Homo sapiens: one gene and its partners. The protein of the gene in region 1 interacts with the protein of each later gene in a biochemical or structural test. Each region holds a gene or a part of one and is shown in the gene's direction. Other genes may lie near its edges. The genes, in order: KCNB1, VAPA and PTPRE.

Region 1 (7,361 bases):
ACAATACAGAAGAAAAACAAGTAACAAGGTTTTCTGTCTGTTCCTGGCCTTGGCAAGAGAGGTGTGTGGCTCCACGAGGACAGGGACCATATAAATTACTCACCCTCAATTCCCAGCACCAACACCCATGCTGAGGCACACAGTAGATGCTCAGTAAACATCTGGAATGATTCCATTAATCAATAAATGAACTGATGGAGAAAGGACTTTGCAGAGAGGCTGCTCTGGTATTTGGATAGCCCGTTGATTTTGGAGTCAAACAAGAGATTCCCATATCTGGTTGTGCCAGCACTTGCCAGCAAGATATTGGGCAAGACACCTTCTCTCGGAGCTTTAGCTTCCACATCTATAAATAACCTCATCTCTTATTTACAGATGTGGAAGCTGATGGATGTTATACCTTCAGAGGACTACTTGTAGTAGGTGCCCAACAAACATGCATCTCCACTCCTTGGTTATATGGAGTAGAGAAGAACCGCACTTCTAGGTGTTATTTTAGCTGTACCTGGAAGGCACCGTAATGCCTGCAGTAATGCCTGGAAATTTCACCATTATAGAGTCATTTTTTCCCTCTCATCAGGAAGGATTTATTGCTTTCTGAAACCTCCTGTGGGAATGCCCAGATCTCTGGAGAAAAGTTGCCTTCAACAGATTAGGCTTACAGAGGGGCCAGCTGAGAACCCTTTCTGACCCTAGGAACACCAGACTGAAGCAGGAGGGAATGTGATTGTTCACTGTCTCTCACACCCCAGGTCATTTGCACTTGCTGTTTCCTCCACCTGGAATGCATTTCCCTCATTCTCCCCATGGCTAGTCCCTTCTTATCTTTCAATCTCTATTAATCTCCTCTGAGACACCCTTCCTGACCACCCTGTGTAACACTAGCAGCTTGGTCTCTCTTTTTCCACCCCATCATGATGTTCCATTTCCTTTATAACAATCACTGTAGCCTGAAACTCTCTCTTTAAAAATTTACTTTTTTAGTTACCTGTCTTCCTCCACTGGTCTACAAGCTCAGAAAGGGGGGCGGGCTGAATTAGGGCAATAGGCCAGAAGTTTAGGTTTTAGTCTAAAGCAAGGGAAAGTCTTGGGAAGGTTTTAAGCAGATGAGAAACATGGTCCAACATTTCATGGTCCATGAAATGTAGCAGTTGTTTTGGTGGCCATGGGGAGAATGAACTGTAGGAGGCCAAGATGGGAGCCAGGCATGGGAGCCAGGGATGAGGCCAAGATGGGAGCCAAGTTGCAGGGAGGTTGCAGGGAGACAAGACGATGGTACCTTGGACAAGGGTCATGATGGTGGAGATGATAAGTGGACAAGTAAAAAATATATAATAATATTATGTGCAACTCTATGGAAATTATGGAAATGAACCCCTTAATTTTAGAAAGGAAGAAAAGGGCCAGAGAGGAACCTGTGTTGGAACACTGTATCTTGTTCAGTTTTTGTCCTCCAGGGCAGGGGAGCTCACTGCTGTACCCATCCCCGGCACTTTTTTTTTTCTTTTTTTTTTTTTGCAACAGGGTCTCACTTTGTTATCCAGGCTGAAATGCAGAGGTGCAATCACAGCTTATAGTGGCTTTGACCTCCTGGGCTCAAGTGATCCTCCTGCCTCAGCCTCCTGAGTAGCTGAGACCACAGGTAAGCAGCACCATGCCCAGCTAATTTTTTATTTTTTGGCAGAGATGGGTCTCACTATGTTGCCCAGGCTGGTCTCCAACTCCTGGGCTCAAGCCATCCTCCCGCCTCAGTCTCCCAAAGTGCTGAGATTACAGGCATGAGCCACTGTGCCCGGCCGCTGACACCTATTTACTTATCATGCAGTAAATGAATATTTGAAAGAATAAATGAGTAAACACAAGGCCCATCTGTGGCATCCTTAGAGAACCCTTGCCTGCCTCTCCAGGTACCTCCTCCAGTTTTCATTTCTGGGATTATGTGATGGGTTTTGCCTCCCCCACTGGATGGGGAGCTCCAGGGGGAAGACTTTCCCTTCACGGAGCCTGGCATTCTGCTTGCACATAGGAAGCTGTCAATAACCAGATGTCCAACTTAACATGAATAAATGAATGAATGAATGAATGAATGAATCACCAGACTATATAAACCAGCTCACTCTTCACCCTCTCTTCCCCATACCTCGCTTTATTTTTCTTCTTAGCGGTTATCACCACCTGCCACATTGCATATGTACTGATGTATTCATTGTCCGCCTCCGTCCCCCACCCCCGACCCCCCGCTAAAATCTAGAATGGAAGCTCATGAAAGCAAGGGCTATTTACAGTTCCGATCTGCCCCCTCCCACCCTCTGACCCTTCCTCCTGTTTCATTATTTCCCCCAGCGCTTGTCACCGCCTCATATATCCTTTCGCTTTTTTGTTTATGATCTGTTTCCAACCAGCTCCACGAGGGCCGGATGTTTGTGTTTGATTCACAGCTGTATCTCAGACGCCTGTCACCGTGCCCTGCACCGCGGCTCGCGCACAGGAGGCGTTCAACACACGTTGTTGACGGGACGAAGGAAGGCGGGATCGCGAGGCCAGCTGTGCAGGTGGCCTGGGTGGAGAGGGATGCACGGCCACGCGCGTCTCCTTGGCCCGATCCCGGAGCCCGCCCCCGGCCTCCCCGGCAGGCTGGGCCGGGCAGGCAGGAGTTAAGCCGCGCTCGCTTCCGACCCGCAGGTGGCGCCGTCCTGCCTTGGTGCCCGGCTCCGGGCGCTCCGAAGTGCGGGACAGAATAGCAGCGAGCGCGGAGCCGAAGCTCAGCCCCGACTTGTTGATCTCGCCCAGGCAGCCGCCGCCGCCGCCGCCGCGGGAGCAGGAGGAGGAGGAGGTGGAGGAGGTGCCGCGCGGCCGCGGTCCTGCCCCCGCGCCCCCGGCGCCCGCCGGCGCCCCCCGCCTCGGAGAGCGCGCCCCGGCCCCGCGGCGCCTGCAGCCCGGGCGAGTTGCCTGCCCGGCCGGGGTAGGCCCGGCTCAGCCCGGCCCCGGGACCGCCGCTGCCCACGGGCGGGGGCGCCCGGGCGGCCGGGACGATGCGCGGTCCCTGGCCCCAGGAGGCGGCCGCCCTGGGGGTGAGTGTTGGGGCGTACGGCCTTCCGTGGGGGTGCATGGGGACACGGACAGGGGGTTTGCCTGCCGCAGCTCGGCCTGTTGGTCTGCTCGGGCTCCGCAGCTCCAGGCTGGAGGGGAGCGGGGTGGGAGGCAGGCAAGGGCTGAGGCCTGAGGGGACGCGCAATCCCCATTCTGGGGCTAAGGCGTGAGCCCTACATGCAGGGGGTGCTCAGGGGAACCCCCCGAAATCACTAGTGCGCGGTAGGAGGATGGCACCTTTTGAAAAGGCCAGAAAATTTAGCTCATTTCCCCGCCTCCCACCTCCCCCACCCCTTCCCTTCCAAGCCCGGGGAAAGGCGCAGAACCCGGAGTTATAAAAAGCCATCGCGGGAGAGGAACGAGGAGGAGGAGTAGGAGGAGGAGGAGGAGGAGGAGGAAGAGGAGGAGGAGGGGGAGAAGGAAGAGGAGGGGGAGGAGAAGGAGGAGAAGGGGGCGGGGAAGGAGCGAGGGGAGGACGGAGCAGGCGGATCCCGAGGACTCTGCCCGCCCCTCCTGCGGTAGGGTTGGGGGCTCAGAGGGAGAGGCGAGAGCGGGCTTTTCCTCCTCGCGGCTCACCTTGTCGCTGGAGCAATCTCAGGAGATGCTCCAGTGTTTGGGAAGAGGGGTCGCTCCAGGACAGAGGGGCTGTTGTGCACACCCCGTCTGTTGTGACCTCGGACAGGTGGGCACCTGGAACCCCCGGAATTCCCCCAAATCTTTTAAGATTTGGAAAAAAGCCCGCTGCCATTCCCCCACCCCCAAAATCTTGATTATCTCGAGAAGGGGAAGGAAAAGAAGAGAACTCGTTAAAAAAAAAAAAAAGAAGGAAAGAAGAAGAAGAAAGAAAGAAAAAGATAAAGAAAGAAAGTTTTCATGCAGCTCCCCCTCTCTCCCCATGGCGGGGCCAGGTTCGGGACTCGATCGGGAGACCCATAATGAAGAGAGTTTCAGCACTCTAAGGGGCGGACAGCGCCCCGGGCGGCTGGGTCGCGCCTGGGCCGCAGAAGCCCAGGGTGGGGCCTCCCGGGCTCCAGGGGCATCTCTTGGGGCCCTCTCCCCGCCCCGAGGGGCGGCCCCTCCCTCCATCCATGGGGTGCGGCGGACTTCAGCACCGGCGGGAGGGACAGCGACCATCCGTCCTACCCCACTGAGCCGCTTAAGCGCGGGGGAAGGTCAAGGCCGGCTGGGAGCCTGGTGGAGAGGTGGGGGGCGGGGGGACAGCATGCCCAGCTCCCCGTTTGCTGACCCGCGTCCGCTTTCGCTTTCTGCCTCGCAGCCGTCGGGATGGAGGTGAGAAGACGGCCGTGACGCGCGCCCGCGGGGCCCCCTGCACCCCCAGCAGCCCACAGCGCTCCCTGCCCCCCTCCCCCGCAGCAGCGGGCCTTGCCGTCGAGTGACAGCGGCCTGGGGGGGCAGGGGGGGCGGGGGCGGCCGGATCAGCGATGCCGGCGGGCATGACGAAGCATGGCTCCCGCTCCACCAGCTCGCTGCCGCCCGAGCCCATGGAGATCGTGCGCAGCAAGGCGTGCTCTCGGCGGGTCCGCCTCAACGTCGGGGGGCTGGCGCACGAGGTACTCTGGCGTACCCTGGACCGCCTGCCCCGCACGCGGCTGGGCAAGCTCCGCGACTGCAACACGCACGACTCGCTGCTCGAGGTGTGCGATGACTACAGCCTCGACGACAACGAGTACTTCTTTGACCGCCACCCGGGCGCCTTCACCTCCATCCTCAACTTCTACCGCACTGGGCGACTGCACATGATGGAGGAGATGTGCGCGCTCAGCTTCAGCCAAGAGCTCGACTACTGGGGCATCGACGAGATCTACCTGGAGTCCTGCTGCCAGGCCCGCTACCACCAGAAGAAAGAGCAGATGAACGAGGAGCTCAAGCGTGAGGCCGAGACCCTACGGGAGCGGGAAGGCGAGGAGTTCGATAACACGTGCTGCGCAGAGAAGAGGAAAAAACTCTGGGACCTACTGGAGAAGCCCAATTCCTCTGTGGCTGCCAAGGTGAGTCTGGGATCTGGGGGCTGCTGGTCTGGGGGGATCTGCTTGCATCCCCATATTGAGGACCACTGCTGGAGGACTCTGGCTTTGTTCCCAACGATGAAGATTAGTAATGGGGAGGGGCTAGGACTGAGTCCCCAGAGGTGAGGACCAACCCCCTCAGACTTTTCCCATGTGGCACTGGTCACTCCATCTTTTTATTATCCAAGACGTTATACCCCTACTTGGTTGGAGAGGTTTCACAGGGACCCATAAAAAGCCACAGCAAGAAGATGGACACTGACGAATAAGAGAGAGAGCACAGAGAGACAACAGTGGCTTGCTGGGGTGGAGTAGGGTTTGCTTCCCTGTGAAGTCCCAGACCTAGGCTGGATTGGATCACCCTGTGATTTTAATATCTCCATATTTATAACCTCACTCTGCCCCAGCAAGGGAAAAAAGCAGCTTACAGACATGCTTACAGGACATTGAGATACTGTCAGATAGTTTAAACATAAGTAAGAAGGGACCCCGAGGGGTGGGTGTGGACCCACACGACACATGCAGTTGGTTGTGGATGCTTGCGGGTGAGGGGTCACCCCCTGGTTACTTATTTATTTGGTGAGTTTATTTCCAGAATGGTTTGGTGCAGCTTGTAAAGATGTTTCAGCTCTTGGAACAAGATGTAAATTTCAAAATAGGAGAGAAAAATGAGGCAATGTGAAAAATAAAGGAGGAGGAGGAGGAGGAGGCAGGAATGAGTTTGAACACAAAGAGTGGGCCAGAGAGTCTTTGGTGCTGCTGGGTAATGGCAGGGGCTGTAGGGGACTGAGGAAGGCTTGGGGTGGGAGCCAAGGCAGGGCAGGAGGGCACTGGTTGATCAGCAACTTCTCTACGTCAGGCTGGGATTTGGGGTTGCCTGGGAAAGATGGGGCCTGTCTTCATGTGCCCGAAGTGCTGGGTGCTGGGAGCAAATGACAAAACAGTGTGTGCAAGGCTATAAAAGAGGTTCTGTGAGGTTCACGGAGAACCCAGAAAAGAGAGATGTTGATGTTGAAATCCAGCAAGACCAACTTGGGAAACATGGGGAGAATGTAACTGAGTGTGGGGCCTAAAAAAAGGGGTCAGGTAAGTAGATTTGTGGTAAAAGAAAGAGGAGAGGAGGAAGCCTAAATATCCAGCCATATCTTACTAGCTAGGGCTGACTCCTGTCCAGCCCAGCCTTTCATTGTGGGGTCTCCGGCTCAGTTCTCACTGAAGGCCCACCTGCAGGTCCCAGTCTGAAGGGAGACTCCGTGGGGTCCTTCCTCCAGATCTAGCCACCCAAGGAGAGGCCCCTGAGAGTGGATGGAGAAGGGGTGGCTGGTAAGAGGGTGGAGGGAGCCCCCACGTGTTTTTTTCGTTTCCCTGTTGGCCCTAACAAGGATGTAGAGGCTCCTGGGCCTGGCTTCCTCCTCTGAGGCTGTGGGCTGTCTCTCTCCATAATCCCGCCCCCAATTTTGTGTCCAAAAAGCCTCCTCCTAAGACAGAGTCACTCACCCTTAATCAGCTTAGGATCAACAGACTTATTTTGCTATTTCCAGGCATGACACAGGTTCTCCCACTGCACATCCCATTTAGGCCCAAATGTGACTCTCCCTCCCTGTCCCATCCCTAAGACATGAGAACAAGGTACAGGGAACTGGACAATTTGCCCTCCCAGAGAAGAAGCAGGCACAGGGCCATGTTTTGGTCTGGCAGCAAGACCCAAGCACCGGGGCTTGCAAGAGGTGCTGTTTGGGAATAAAGAACCTCTCCTCTCCCTTGGGTTAATCCGCTAGCAGGGACAGCCTTGTGACCTCTCCATGATCCCAGTCTGGGGCTGCCAGCTCACATTCCTGGCAGATGGACCATCTAGGATTTTCTGTAGCCAGAGCTGAAATGGGGAGGGAGGCAGGCTCACTGGCCCTCAGAATAGAAATCCTGGCTGCCAATGATCAAACACCTACTGTGTATGGAGTGTAACAACGCAGCTCTGTTATTATCCCACCTTTCGCAAACAGTGAGGCTGAAAGAGGTTAAGTAACTTGCCTAAGGTCACACCACAGGCAGTCAGGAGTAGCCAGAAATCCAAACCGAGTGTTCTTTCTATAATGATCAAGTGCCGCAGCCTCCTCCCCAGTCTCCCGGCTTCCACTTTTGCCCCTGCAATCCATTCCCCACATAGCAGCCAAAGTGAGCTTTTCAAAATGTAAATTGGATCACATTATTCATCTGCTTAAAATCCTCCAGAAGTTTCCCATCACA
Region 2 (7,109 bases), on another chromosome or scaffold:
TAACAAGCATCTTGAAGATGAATTAACAGTATGTTGCACAATTTTGCAAAAGCAGACACCAACTATTTCAGTACATTTTTCTGTATACCTCAGTATTTAAAAAAAAGTTTGTTTTATACAGTCGTTAACATATAAAAGTGCATTTACGATGTAATGAATTCTGAAGTAGATCACTTGTGTTAGTAAAGAAAAAGAAGTAGACGCTGCTTTACTTCAAATTCTGTTTAAACCTTGGAAGTAATTTTACCTAGATTTCAGATTTGAAACTTGGTATTTTATGTGAAAGATTTTTTTTGTCTTTAAAATTTTTTACATGATAAAATTCCATTTATAATGTATTACACATTTTATTTTTCTACCTATTAGCAGTTTTTTTAAATTTTTTTATTTTTTGAGACGGAGTCTTGCTCTGTTGCAGTGGCTCGATCTCGGCTCATTGCAGTCTCTGCCTCCCGGGTTCAAGCAATTCTCCTGCCTCAGTCTCCAGAGTAGCTGGAACTACAGGCATGCACTACCATGCCCAGCTAATTTTGAATTTTTTGTAGAGACGGGATTTTGCCAGGCTGGCCTCGAACTTCTGACCTCAGGTGATCCGCCTGCCTTGGCCTCCCAAAGTGCTGGGATTACAGGCGTGAGCCACCGCACCTGACCCCTATTAGCAGTTTTGTAGAAAAGTTTGAAGAAGAAAGTTTATAAAATGCTAAAATAAATTTCAAATATATTCTTAATGATCAGAGAGAGACGAAAATAAACCAAAATCCTTATGTTGAGAGTGGCCGATAACAATAAATCAACAAAGAAAATTAAGCTCTCTGAGGGATCGAGGGACGTATGGTGTTAACATCAGCTAGTGCATCTGCATAGAAGCAGCACGGGGCGGGGGGGAAATTAGAGAATACTCCTCTGGATGGATATTTAGCACATTTTTAGGTGTTTCCAGTCGGCTCTTCATGTTTCCCAGTGGCTATACAAAACGCCTGGGGCTCTAAAGACATGAATGTAATCTTTAATCATATATTACTCCATTCCTTAGTTTTTAGGTAACTCTCAATTGCTCACAGAATAAAAGTCAGATTTTTTTTTTTCAGTAAGACATACCATCTCTTCCATGATGTGCCTTCCTCTTGTAACACCTGTTAGTCTGTACACATCCATACTTTCTTCCCTGAGAAAGAAAAACCCTGCTCATACCCAAGGTTCTTTGTTCCTCTATTTTTGCTGGCTAAGGTAAAATTCCTTATGACTCAGACCATGTTCCATGAGATGTTTTCCTGCTGGTTTTCAATCACTGGCTGCATTGTTTTAACATATAAATACACCAGAGTCTTTGATTTTAAAAACAAATGAGCAGACATGTACTTCTTTGACCATAACTCTTTCTAGTATGTGTCTCTCCCTGTCCTTCATTTCCTTTGCATTCAGACTTTTTGGAAAAATAGTCCATATTCACTGTTTTTCCAGTTACTCACCTTTTATTCTCTCCTTAGTCCACGGTACTTTTATCCTCTCACTACTTATTGCTAACTTAATCATTTCCAGTTTTTATCTTACTTGACCTCCCCCTGGCTCTTGACAGTACCGACAGTTTCTCTAAAAAAAACCCTCAATTCTTCTGGCTTCTATAACAGCATTGTCTTCTAATTTTCTTATTTGCTCCATTTATTGTCTTATTTGTGGCATTTTCCTCAAATGCTCATGTTTCTGAGATTCTGATTTGGTTTCATTTATCTCACTCTGTGAACTTTCTTTGTTCATTTCATTGTTTTGAGGTTTTCTCTTTATCTTCCTTGCTCTCTGCAGGTATTGCTACACCCCCAAGTCTGTTTTAATTCACATTTTACCGTCAGTCAAGAGCACATACTCAAACAACTTATTCACTATTTAGATTTGAATATTGCACAGATATGATATTCTAAACTCAAAATATCTCAAAATTTTTACTACCCATGCCTACTCTTCTTCCCATATTTTTTATTTTTATTTTTGAGATGGGGTCTTGCTCAGTTGCTCAACCTGGAGTGCAGTGGCATGCACGTTCTTGGCTCACTGCAGCCGTGACCTCCTGGGCTCAAGTGATCCTCCTGAATAGCTAGGACTATAGGTGCATGCTACCATGCCCAGCTAATTTTTTACGTACATATGGGGGTGCCGCTGTGTTGCCCAGGCTGATCTCGAACTCCTGACCTTGCGTGATCCTCCTGCCTTGGCCTCCTAAAGTGCTGGGATTACAGGCCTGAGCCATTGCACTTGGCTTTATTTTTATTTTTTAGTGGCATCATGATTACTCACACCAGAAACAATATGCATATCTAATAATTAAAATCTGTGTTTCTATTTTTGACATAATCCCTTTGTCCACTTCAATGTGTTTCTACTTCCAAATTCATTTATTTTTAAAATTCATTCAATTATGGATCTAATTTGATTAGATTTGAGTATCTGCTACATGTCAGGTATGATGAATAAATATTGGAACTACAGTTGTGAGTGAAACACAAGCCATGTTTTCATGGGGCAGTTCTAACAAGAGAGATAGATACTAATAAAATAATCAGAAGAATAAAGTGTACCCCTGAAGAGCTATATAGTGCTACGAGAATGTAAAATAAGGGTCTTCGATCAGGCTGTCACAGTTGAACTAAGATTCCAACAATGAGTAAAAGTTATCCTGGTGAAGAAGAAAGGAAAATGCATGTTCAAATATCCGGTAGCAGGAGGGACTGTGAAACATTTACCATACTGAAAGAGGTCGGCGTGGCAGTGGTGAAAATAGTCAAGATGAATGTAGTGCTGGTTTAGTAGGTCAAGTTAGGAGTTTTGTTTTTATCCTGAGCCACTAGGGTTTTTAAGTGAGGGGAGGAGCAGTAAAGATGGAGGGAATCGAATAACATCACATTTGCATTTAAAAATAATTCTGGTAGCAATGTAAAATTATACTAGAGGGGAGAAAGAGATGAATTAGGCGGCTGCAGCAGTACTGGCAAGTGGTGACCCCTTGGACTGAGGTCATGGTATTGGAGGTGATGAAAAGTTAGGTTGAATCTGTGAGACTTGGTGGTCTCTATGTGCACTGAGAGAAAAGGGTATGAATGTCTGAGATTTCTGCTTATATAACTGGGGAAATGGTGGTGCTATTTGAGAAACGGTGGATGTCTGGATGAGGACGAAATGCATCTTATTTGGGGGTGTGTGAGAGAGATGGAGGAGGAGGACGTATGGTAGATATGTTTAGGTCTTTCAGGATATTAACATGAAGGTGGATTTGGTTAAATGGGTGTGTTACTTAAGAAAAGGTCTGGGCTTTGGATAATTTCCTTACTTCAGGTCCTTTTATATTTACTAGTCAGCAGACATCTCCTTTTCTTTTCTTTCTTTCTTTCATTTTTTTCTTGAGATGGAGTCTCGCTTTGTCACCCATGGTGGTGTGCAGTGGCGCTATCTCGGCTCACTGCAACCTCTGCCTCCCGAGTTCAAGCGATGCTCCTGCCTCAGCCTCCCAAGTAGCTGGGATTACAGGCGTGCACCACCATGCCTGGCTAATTTTTGTATTTTTAGTAGAGACGGGGTTTTGCCCTGTGGGCCAGGCTGGTCTCCCTGACCTCAAGTGATCCACCTGCCTCTGCCTCCCAAAGTGTTGGGATGACAGGCGTGAGCCACTGTGCCCAGCCTCCTTTATTGTCAGCTCTTTACCCTGTCCTCCACACTGCTGCTGGAACTACGCTTTGGAAAAAGGAGGCTGTTACTGTTAGTCCCTTGATTGAAGAACTCTAAATGTTTTCTTACTATGTACTTGAAAAATCCAAAATCCACTGCCTAACTCTCCAGCCTCAGTGTCTATTCTTTTTCTTCTGTCCATAACTTTGGCTATATGAAACCATTTTCCCAAACACTCCAGGCCACTGCAATGCTTTGCACAGGCTCTGCTTAGAATATTGTCCTCCCTCACGTCTGTCAGGCAGCCTCTTATTTCAAGAATCACTTCCTCTTGAGAAGTCGTTGATACTCTACCAGTCCAAGTTGGTCAGAGCCTTCATGCCACTGTTGAAGCTTGTGCTTACCTGTAATAACAGTACTTTCACATTAGATAGTAGTTAGGCTTACATATTCTCCCCTCCCAAACTATACTATGAACTCTGAGTATATACCTGTTAATGTTTGTAGTAACAAGTTCTGGCATCATAAAATGATTGCCCAGTAAGTGTTGATTGAATTAATAAGACTCAGATGATTTCTCCAGTAATTTTTATTTTTTGGTCTTGGATCTTGACTCAGTTGGAGTTTTCACCTGCTTTTGCAGGTAATAGTGCTTTCAAAATTTTGTACTTCCAGAAAAGGGGTGGTAGGCTATTTTGTAAAGAGCTGACTAACCCTAAAGGTAGGTTGTTTGATGTTTGTGTTTTTTTCATTTGTAAAGTAAGAGGTTAGGACTAGGTGATTTCTTGGGTGTTCTGTCTTTAAAAGTTTGTGTGAATATATGACAATTGAGTACAAAAAGAAAATGCTATTTTTCTGTGAAGCAGAAAAATGCATATAAAGAATAGGGAAAACTATACTTTTAATCCTTTAAAAAGATTTCATTGTGTATATTTGAGGTATACATATAACATGATGTTATGGGATACATATAGATAGTAAAATGGTTACTATAGTGAAGCAAATTGACATATGCATCATCTCAACATAGTTTCTTTTTATCTTACCTTTACTGACCATTTAGTGAAATCTTATTTGCCTTTCAGAGGTGGAAGTTGATACAGGATGGATCTTGCTCTCTTTTGATCATAAAGTTAGTTTTGGAAAAAAATTAAATGTGCGAGAGGACTGTTAACTTGCAAATGCTTGTTTACTGGTTTAATTCATTTTATAACTGAAATGTGACTCAAATTAGTTTTAAATTAGTAAGTTTTAAACGTTTGAAAACTTTCAAACATGAGCACCTTATAATATGAACCTCAGTATGCGTTAATTTAGTAAATTAAATTTAAATATAAATTTAATAATTGACATTTTACTATAATCATACGTGTTTATTTATATATTTTTGTTTGCCTCCATGTTTGTATTTTTTTGCAGCGGTCTCACTCTGACACCAGACTGAAGTGCAGTGGTGCTGTTATAGCTCACTGCAGCCTTGAACTCCAGGGCCCAAGCGATCCTTCTGAGTAACTAGGACTACAGGTGCATGCCACTGTGCCCAGCTAATTATTATATGTTTTATTTTTTGTAGAGACAGTCTTGCTATTTTGCCCAGCCAGATCTTGAACTCCTGGCCTCAAGCGATCCTCCTGCCTCAGCCTCCCAAAGTGCTGGAATTACAGGCATGAGCTACCATACCTGGCCTGCCTCAGTATTTTTAAAACAAATCCTGAATGATAGCATAACATTTCATCCCTAGATACTTGAGTTTGCATTTATAACCAAAAAAGGACATTTTCTTTGCATAATCATGATACTGTTAACACGTAATAACATTAACAGTAATTCTTTGATATCCTCTAATATTTAGTCTATTACAAAGAACAAAATCACACTTAAGAGTTTATTAATGAGCAATCTCAATGGCATAGGAAATCAGGTATACCTGGTCTCACAGGAAGAGGCTGTTTATAATCTAGATTCAAGGCCAGCCAATATATATGCTGGTGACTGACCAGTCAAAATTTTGATGGCTCACCTTGAAACACAACTATAAATAGATGGTTATAGGTTTCAGACCTTCAAGGTCATATGGACTGGGAGACAAAACAGTGGCTAATTTGGACCAGTGGCAAGCAGAAGCAACTAATTGAGAGAAAAAAGGCAGAGAAACGTAGGCAGAGAGGTCTTTTGATCCCAGGAATTAGTTTCTCTTGAATACAGCCTCTTCCTGTGATGCCAGTTATACTTCATTTCCTGTGCCATTGAATTGCTTACATCTTTATGATGAACTCTTCAGTATGGGTTTTTTTAATAATAAAATATTCTTTGCTTAAATGAGATTGAATTTGATATTTTCTGAAGCCATATTTGTAACACATTATTCTTTAACATTTCACTTTATAAAAAATAAATTCTGTAATCTGTTATACATATTTCACTTTGTAATTGTTATTCTGTAACACATATTTCACTTTATAAAAAGTCTAAACTAGTGTCTTCAATGCTTATAAAAGAAACCTCCGTATCATTTTTGCTGACTTATGCATCATTAATATACCATAGCATGCTTAGCTGCTTTTCTCTGGTGTTTGGATGTTCTTTATAACTAGTTATCACTAATGTTTGATACTGTTCTGAAAATTCAGATTTAAAGGAGTGAGAAGTTTAGTTACGTATCTTTTAGCTTTTTAAGGAAATGATTAGATTGAATTACCGTTAAAAAGTAGGGATGTTAATTAAAAAAGAATTGTTGCTATGAGAGGACTTTTAAACTTTTAGCATTTTAAGGAAATGATTAGATTGAATTACCGTTAAAAAGTAGGGATGTTAATTAAAAAAGAATTGTTGCTATGAGAGGACTTTTAAACGTATGTTTATAGTATAACTTGACAAATTTCTCATGGGCCTATGTTTTGACAGCTCTTTTGTAGCTGTATGTTTCATGTATGTGTGTATATGTGTGAAGTGTATATGAATATGTATATAATTTTAATTCTTGAATAATATGACATGGAGTGACTGTCATACTTTAAAGACATAGGGTGCCTTTAAATCATACAGTGTTTCCTGTTTAGTTTTTCCTGTGAAAAAATTTTACTTTTTAAAGCCTGTAGGGCCAGAATCTCTTGGTCTTGTTTTCTGAGTACTGTTCCCACTGAGAAAAACCTCACTAACAACAGATCCCCAAAAAATCTGTGGTTCTGAATTTTTTCAGTTTTTTCTTCCAGGATTTTACAAGTAAGAGGATTTATAAGCAAATTAAGCTACTATGGGTACATGTTTAAAAGTCCCTTGTTATATAAAATCAGTGCTAAATTAGAAAATGGAAAAAGTATAGATATTATAAAGCTGTCTATGGCCATACCACCCTGAACGCGCCCCATCTCGTCTGATCTCGGAAGCTAGCAGGGTCTGGTTAGTACTTGGATGGGAGATATTATAAAGCCAATAAAAATTACTCAATCTCACAA
Region 3 (7,109 bases), on another chromosome or scaffold:
TCTGTTGCCAAAGCAGGAATGAATGTATCCATTAGGGTAAAGACTGGCCTTCTTAATATTTGAATATCACTTGGGAAGAAAACTACAGTTCTAAGAACATCTCTAGTTTTTCTTTTGGCTTTCTTCCTACTGACCCAATGGCTTTGTCTTCCATAAAGCTCCCAAAGCTTTCCAGATCCCAAGACTCAGCTCCCTGCTCTCAGCCTCCTTCCCCTTTATTTCCATCTTAGAAACTCCTACCCATACCTCAAGGCCCACCTCAAAAGTCTCAGTCTCCACAAAGCCTTCCTGGCTCCCCTACCTGAGAGGAATCTCTCTTACTCTTGGTTCCATAGAACGTTATTTCTGCCTGTCCTAAAGCACTTACTGGACTTGACTTTGATTTCCAGTTCACTTGCTCAAGTAGTTTATCTCCTCCACTAGGCAGCCAGTGCTTTAAGGGTGGAGGGTGTGTCTCTGAGAGCATGTACTTTGGGTTCAGTCAGTCAAGTTCTGACTCTGGTGTGACCTTGGCTAAATGACTCAAAATGCAGGCTTCAGTGTTCTCTAGAATGGGAGTAATCATCGCTACTTCCCAGGGCTGCTGCTGTGAGGGGGACATAGGATACATATAATTGACAGGCCGCTTGGCTGGTATGCAGTAAACTGTGGTTATCTTTCCCCTACAACATCTAATGCTGTGCATTGCACATGTAAGAATCAGTGAAGTTTGAGGCCGGGTGCAATGGTTCACACCTGTAATCCCAGCACTTTGGGAGGCTGAAGCACGCAGATCACTTGAGGCCAGGAATTCCAGACCGGCATAGGCAACATGATGGAACTCTGTACCAAAAACACAAAAAAATTAGATGGGCATGGTGGTGCACACCTGTAGTCCCAGCTACTCAGGAGGCTGAGGTGAGAGAAACATCTGAGCCTGGGAGGTCAGGGCTGCAGTGAGCCATGTTCACACAACTGCACTCCAGCCTGGTTGACAGAGAAAGACCCTGTCATGGAAAAAAAAAGAATCAATGAAGTTTGAATGAATACATGAACCAAGCCAAAAACCATACAAATAGATAGATACCTTTTGTGCATCATCCAGATCAGTAGGTCAAATCAGTGTGGTGTGGCATGCCAGATAATTTTTGCATGGCAATCTAAATGATTATTATGTAAATTTTGCGTGATTAAGTATTTTAATCCCATAATGTTATCACTTACCATGAAGGCATTCATTCTTCAATATGCACCATTGACTCCAGTGATCGATGAGGCAGAAATGCAACTTGCTGTGCACATTAACCAGGCTCGTGGCCTGAATTAAACCAGGCTGGGTGTGAGGCACTGCAAAAGCAAACGAAACCCACCCCTGAGAAGCAGTGTGGCCTAGAATCAGGTGTCTGGAATCAGGGTAAGAGAGCAGCTTCTAGACCAGAACATAAAGCTAGGAAGCTGTGGCCTACCCTAGAAACTCTCAGAACTTCACTTTGCTTATCCAAAGAAAGGGGCTGTCCTGGGCCATCTCTGGGCCCCTCACAGCTGCTGCACTTCCGCCCGATTTCACCCCTTCCCCACCACTGGGCAGGAAGGGCTGCTGACTCCGTACAAGGCTGGATCCCAGGCAGGGAGGCCTCCTGTTTCTTGGCTCAGCATTTGGGCCACGTGTCTCTCTGCTCTGGACACCAAATCTAGAGAGAGTGAGGAGAGGCCCGTGGGTACATGTAGCGTGCTGCCAATTTTAGGTACTGGCCCTAGACATATCAAGAGTTTATTTTGGAGGATTAACTTCTCATTATTTTGTCACTAGGATTTTTTTTTTTCACCAAAAGCAGAGTGCTGGATGATATTTTAGATGGCTGGGATTTTAGATCAGCCATACCTGAGGCAATAAGAGTTGGTCGAATGTTACCAATCCTTGAGCAGACACAGATGAGCAGTTGCGGGGTCGTTCGCTGCTGGATGTGGGCTAGGAGACCCCTGGTTTGGGGATTATGAAGGCAGCCTCCTTTTCTTCCCTGGGCTCTGGCTGCTGTTTTCCCAGTCATACCCATCATGGTCTGCCCTGTCCAGGTGTTCCATGTGGGGAGTATTGATGTGGTGCCCAGCCTTTGAACTGTTAACAACACCCTGCTCACAGCCAGAAATGTGGGCCCCACATCTTTCTTTCAACTGTATGAATACTTCAGAGGCTTTGATTGAGCTTAAGAAATACAAATTCTTAACAATATATTTCAGAAAAATAAACATATCCTTTTATATTGATTCCCAATGAAATAGGGGCCAGATAAAATATTTTAAAAGGGCATCTGTTTTTAAAAATATCTTTCAAATGCAATCAAGAATGTTCAGTTAATCCGGTCCATTATGTATATTGTAACAAGTAACAAAAGGGGCAGAGAAATCTTTCTCCCAAAAACAAATATAAAGTCCAGCAGGGAGTAGGGAAATGTTTGAAGAAAAAAAAAAGATTCTTAGTTATGTGCTAAAAACCAAACGTGTTTTGGGCAGGTGCTTTGATGTTAGTGTTTGTTGGGTGGAGAGTAAAGAATTGATAGGAAAACTTGTTTGGATCCCAGGTCTGGGTGCCAGCTACACTACATTTGATCCAATGGAAGGGCTAGCATGGGAACAATAGCATTTGGTGTGAGCGCCCTGGGCAGGTACATGACTCTGTCGTCAGCTCCCAGGGATGGACAGCCAGTCCCACAATGCCTGGAGCTCAGAGCTCACTCTGTGCATGTATGTGACATGGAGAGATGGATGGATGAAGGTAATAGAACTGAGTAGGAGCCTGTCCAGGTAGCAGTGGAGGAGGCCAAGTGGCGGAGGCCTTCCCTGCCATGATTTTACTCTGTCTGAATACCAGCAGCAAGTGGAAGCCACGGGGCTTTATTTTCAAGGGAGGTGACACAGCCTGGGGCTCAGGGAAAGGACTTAGGAGCAGAATGACTGGGATCAGATGGGGGCCCATGAGACTGAGGCTCTGGACAAGGCAAGGGACTTCCCCTGGCCCAGTGTGAGCCCAAGTCTTTACGGTGGGGAGCATGATGCCGCCAAGGCAGCTGCACGGGGATCGGTGGAGGTGGTACGCAGAGGCCTGGCCCCATGATCACCAAAGGGCCAGCGGTCTCACACAAGGCAAGGGCCCAGGGGACCGGAATCAAAGGCCTGAGATGATGTGAGCCCTGACTTCTCCTCTGCCACAGTCGCTTTGTCCTCAAGGCAAGTCATTTAATTCCTATTCAATAAATGCACAAACATAATTTTTGGTTATTAATGTCCCTAAATCTGTTTGGACATTTCCAGCTGAACATTAGTCACCAGTTTTGTACTAGAGAGAAAATTAGTTCCATCTTTCTTCTCAACTGAGATTTTTAAATGTCCTATCACATAGCTACTTGATTACAGTGTATTATTTTAAATGACCTCTGTACTAAGTCCTTTTATTTTGGCGTCCTCTCACTCCAGAAGGACTTGGCATTGGCATTTTTCAGGCTGTGTCTCCACAGTAGGACTTTCATAGGTCTGCGGTGCAGACTGGTTTGCTGTCCACAGGCTTGGCCCTGACTCCTCGGCTAACATGCACAAGGGCGCTCTGAGGGTCGGGAACGCACCCACCAAGCACAGCCCAGACGAAATGGAAGCTCCTGTCCAGGCAGGTTCCCGGTGAAACTCTAGGGAGCTCCAGCCTTCCTTTCTTCTCCAGTTTATTAAGAGGCTGGCCTCAGAGGTGGACACCTACTTCCACAATTTGATGTCCGACCCTGGGACTCTCCTCTTTACCCTGCCCCCACCTCATCCACCAGCCTTTTGGTCTGAAATCCTTGTCATGGGGTAAAGCTTTTTATTCTGTTGTTGGAAACACAGTATATGGTTTGGCTGTGTGTCCCCTCCAAATCTCATGTTGAAATGTGGTCCCCAGCGTTGGAGGTAGGGCCTGGTAGGAGGTATTGGATCATGGGGGCAGGTACCTCATGATTACTAGCGCCATCCCTTTAGTGATGAGTGAGTTCTTGCTCAGCTAGTTCACATGATATCTGGTCATTTTAAAGAATGTGGCACCCCCCACCCACTCTCTCTCTTGTTCCCACTCTCACTGTGTGGCATGCTGGCTCCCTCCCTCTGCCTTGATTGGAAGCTTCCTGAGCCTCACCTGAAGCAGGTGCCAGCATTATGCTTTGTGCACAGCCTGCAGAACCATCAGCCAATTAAACCTCATTTCCTTATAAATTACCCAGCGTCAGGTATTCCTTTATTGCAATGCAAGAACAGACTGACACACACAGCACAGGTGGAAATACAGGCTTTGCGGACACCGGTGGCCTGTTTTTCTGACACTATCATACTTCCCAGGATAGGCTCTACTCTTAACTCTTCTAACCCCATCCACTTGTTATAAAACACACTTTCAGAAAAAGGCTAGGTTGTTACTGAGGTAACATGGGATGGATCTTTGGAGGTGGGAAGGCCTCCAGCCTCCTCTGGGGAAGACAAAGTAAATCCTCCCTATGGAATTCTCCAGCTTGTTTTCTTGATTCCAGAGAGACCTGCTAGTGAATTCAACTAACAGGTTGGTTTTCAGCACAGAATATTTCCTACAGATGTCGGTGTTTCTTTCCAAATCCTTCCTCTCTTCAGGGCGCTTTCCCACTGTTCTAGACGTAGGAGAGAAAGCACTTCTCAGATGGTGAGCTTTTATCTTCCAATCTTGTCAACCGAGGAGACCTGGAAGTTCCCTTTCAACCTGGAATGTGAGCCCTGCTTGCTGGGCACGAGATAAGGACCAAGGATTGACCCAGGACAATTTCAGAGAGCACAGGGGTGGCATATCCTCATGTCAGGGCGTGGAGCTAATATTCAGACCCAAACACTCTGAATCTCTGAAGCAGAAGCTCTCTTAAAATTCCTGGGGAGGAAATCAGTATGAATTAATAAAAAGCCTGAATATTGTGGATTTTTATTAAATTCGAGGATTTATAGTAACTCAATCCAGGCCAACAAAACGTTGCCTTCCGGTACTTACTTTAATGAATAGAAAGCATGTAAATGCTCTTCCAAAGAGAATAACACATTTTAGCATCTTAAATATGTAAAAATAAAACTCCTGTACAATCCTAGTTGCACTAGGAAGTCTACTTATCAAAAAAAGAAACTTCTGTTTCCAGCCACATTATTTCAAATCATCCCAAAACTTACATTGTTACTAGTAAAATTTTTCATTGTGATTAACACTTTTTTTCCAGTATGGTTTTCCTCTTTCTGAAAGCAACCTTAGTTTCATAAACAGTTGGACATTTAAGTACTGGTCAAAAAAGTACTCTGAACCAGTAACCTCGTCCTTAATTTTGAACTGCTGTTGACTAAGCGCTCTCTTTTCCTAAGCTCATAGCAGCCCTTCGTTCAGTGCTTCAGTAATTCAATAAATTACTTTTTGCCAAGGTTGCAAACATCAGCTAAAGTTCAGTCATCTACTGGAGATGTTATCAGTCTGTCCATTTAAATTCTTTTGCGCAAAGTCCAGATTTGGACCCAAAGTAATATAAAAATGCAAGAGCCAGAAATTTAATAATTTTGTACTGTGTTGTGCCAAGCCAGGCCTATTCTTAGCTAGCCAACAACATTCTTTCAAAGGATATTTTTTGGTTTTCATCAAATGTAAATAGTGTTTAAGAGTCTGTAATATCATTTAGAAGGAACAAATGGAAGTATTAAACCTTTATTGACTACCTACAGTATATAGAGGATCTATAACTTATGATGGTTTTATTATAGTTTCTCAACCTTACAATGGGTTTATTGGGCATTGGGTACATTTTAAACTTATGATATATTCTATTTACAAGGGGTTCATCAGGATATGACCTCACTGTAAGCCCAGGAGCATCCGTACGTACAAGCACTGTGCTTAGCGCTGGAGTTACAGGGAAAAAAAAAAAAAAAGGCACGATGGCTTGTGACATCCTGTGGATGCTCCAGGTCCACAGGAAGACAGAACTCACTTCCAGGGAGTGTTAAATGTGATGCTGGATGCTCCTGTGGAGGAGGGGAGACATGGAAGGGCCTCCCCAGGTAGAGCAGTGACGTGGTCTGGCTCTGTGTCCCCACCCAAATCTCATCTTGAATTGTAATCCAAATAGTAATCCCCACATGTTGGGGGAGGGACCTTGTAGGAGGTGATTAGATCATGAGGGTGGTTTCCCCCATGCTGTTCTCATGATAGTGAGTGAGTTCTCATGAGATCTGATGGTTTTATAAGGGGCTCTTCCCCCTTCACTTCACTGTGCACTTCACTGTGCACTTCTCCTTCCTGTCGCCTTGTGAAGAAGGTGCCTTGCTTCCCCTTCCACCATGATTGTCAGTTTCCTGAGGCCTCCCCAGCCATGCTGAACTGTGAGTCAATTAAACCTCTTTCCTTTATAAATTACCCAGTCTTAGGCAGTTCTTTATAGCAGTATGAAAACAGACTAATACAAGCAGGCTTGGTTTACTGGGCCATTTCCTAGGCAGCTGACAGGGATTGAGCATTCCAGACAGAGGGGCTACCATGTGCTTGCCTGGCAGTAGGAAGCGGTGTGTCCTGTCTGGGGAAGAGCAGGTGTCTGCATGGAGCTGGAGCCCAGGGACAGAGGGGATGGGACAAAAAGGTGGAAAGTTTAAGGATCACCCAAACATTTGTACACCATCCAGGAGTCTGGATTCTGTGTGACGGACCAGCAGTTCTTACCGTGTCTTAAATTATGACCCCCTTTGTGATTCTAGGGAAGACTATGGACTCATTCTCCAGAAAAACGCATGTGTGCACACAGTCATTTGTATAGTTTCAGCAAGTCTTTCCTAACACCCCTCCCCCCATCCTGAGGCTCACAGGTTCCAGGTGTGTCCCCTTTGTGCGGCCTGGCCAGCCCCACAGAGCCCAGCAGCATGCTCAGCTGTGAGTTTGAGAAGGGGTCCCCTGCTGGCTGTGTGTGGAAAGCCAGAATGGAGGTGACGGGGGAAACCGACTCAGCAGGTTGGATTTATAGGCAACATGACCATGTGGGTGAGAGGATGAGAGTGAGAACCAAGGCCCCGCAGTTTTCGGCCAGGGTGACTGGATGCATCCGGACCAGACACAGGCTTACGAGATG

Evidence for each region.
Region 2: the proteins of KCNB1 (region 1) and VAPA interact in a test that uses a peptide from one of them, tested with the Homo sapiens proteins (one study listed by BioGRID).
Region 3: the proteins of KCNB1 (region 1) and PTPRE form a complex in vitro, tested with the Homo sapiens proteins (one study listed by BioGRID).

What each region holds. Positions count from the first base shown.
Region 1 is NC_000020.11:49,479,652-49,487,012, reverse strand, and holds the start of KCNB1 (potassium voltage-gated channel subfamily B member 1), read left to right. Parts: upstream 1-4,344; 5' UTR 4,345-4,532; coding exon 4,533-5,099; intron 5,100-7,361. UniProt on the Homo sapiens protein: Voltage-gated potassium channel that mediates transmembrane potassium transport in excitable membranes, primarily in the brain, but also in the pancreas and cardiovascular system.
Region 2 is NC_000018.10:9,916,930-9,924,038, forward strand, and holds part of VAPA (vesicle-associated membrane protein-associated protein A), read left to right. Parts: intron 1-7,109. UniProt on the Homo sapiens protein: Endoplasmic reticulum (ER)-anchored protein that mediates the formation of contact sites between the ER and endosomes via interaction with FFAT motif-containing proteins such as STARD3 or WDR44.
Region 3 is NC_000010.11:127,910,089-127,917,197, forward strand, and holds part of PTPRE (receptor-type tyrosine-protein phosphatase epsilon isoform 1 precursor), read left to right. Parts: intron 1-7,109. UniProt on the Homo sapiens protein: Isoform 1 plays a critical role in signaling transduction pathways and phosphoprotein network topology in red blood cells. May play a role in osteoclast formation and function.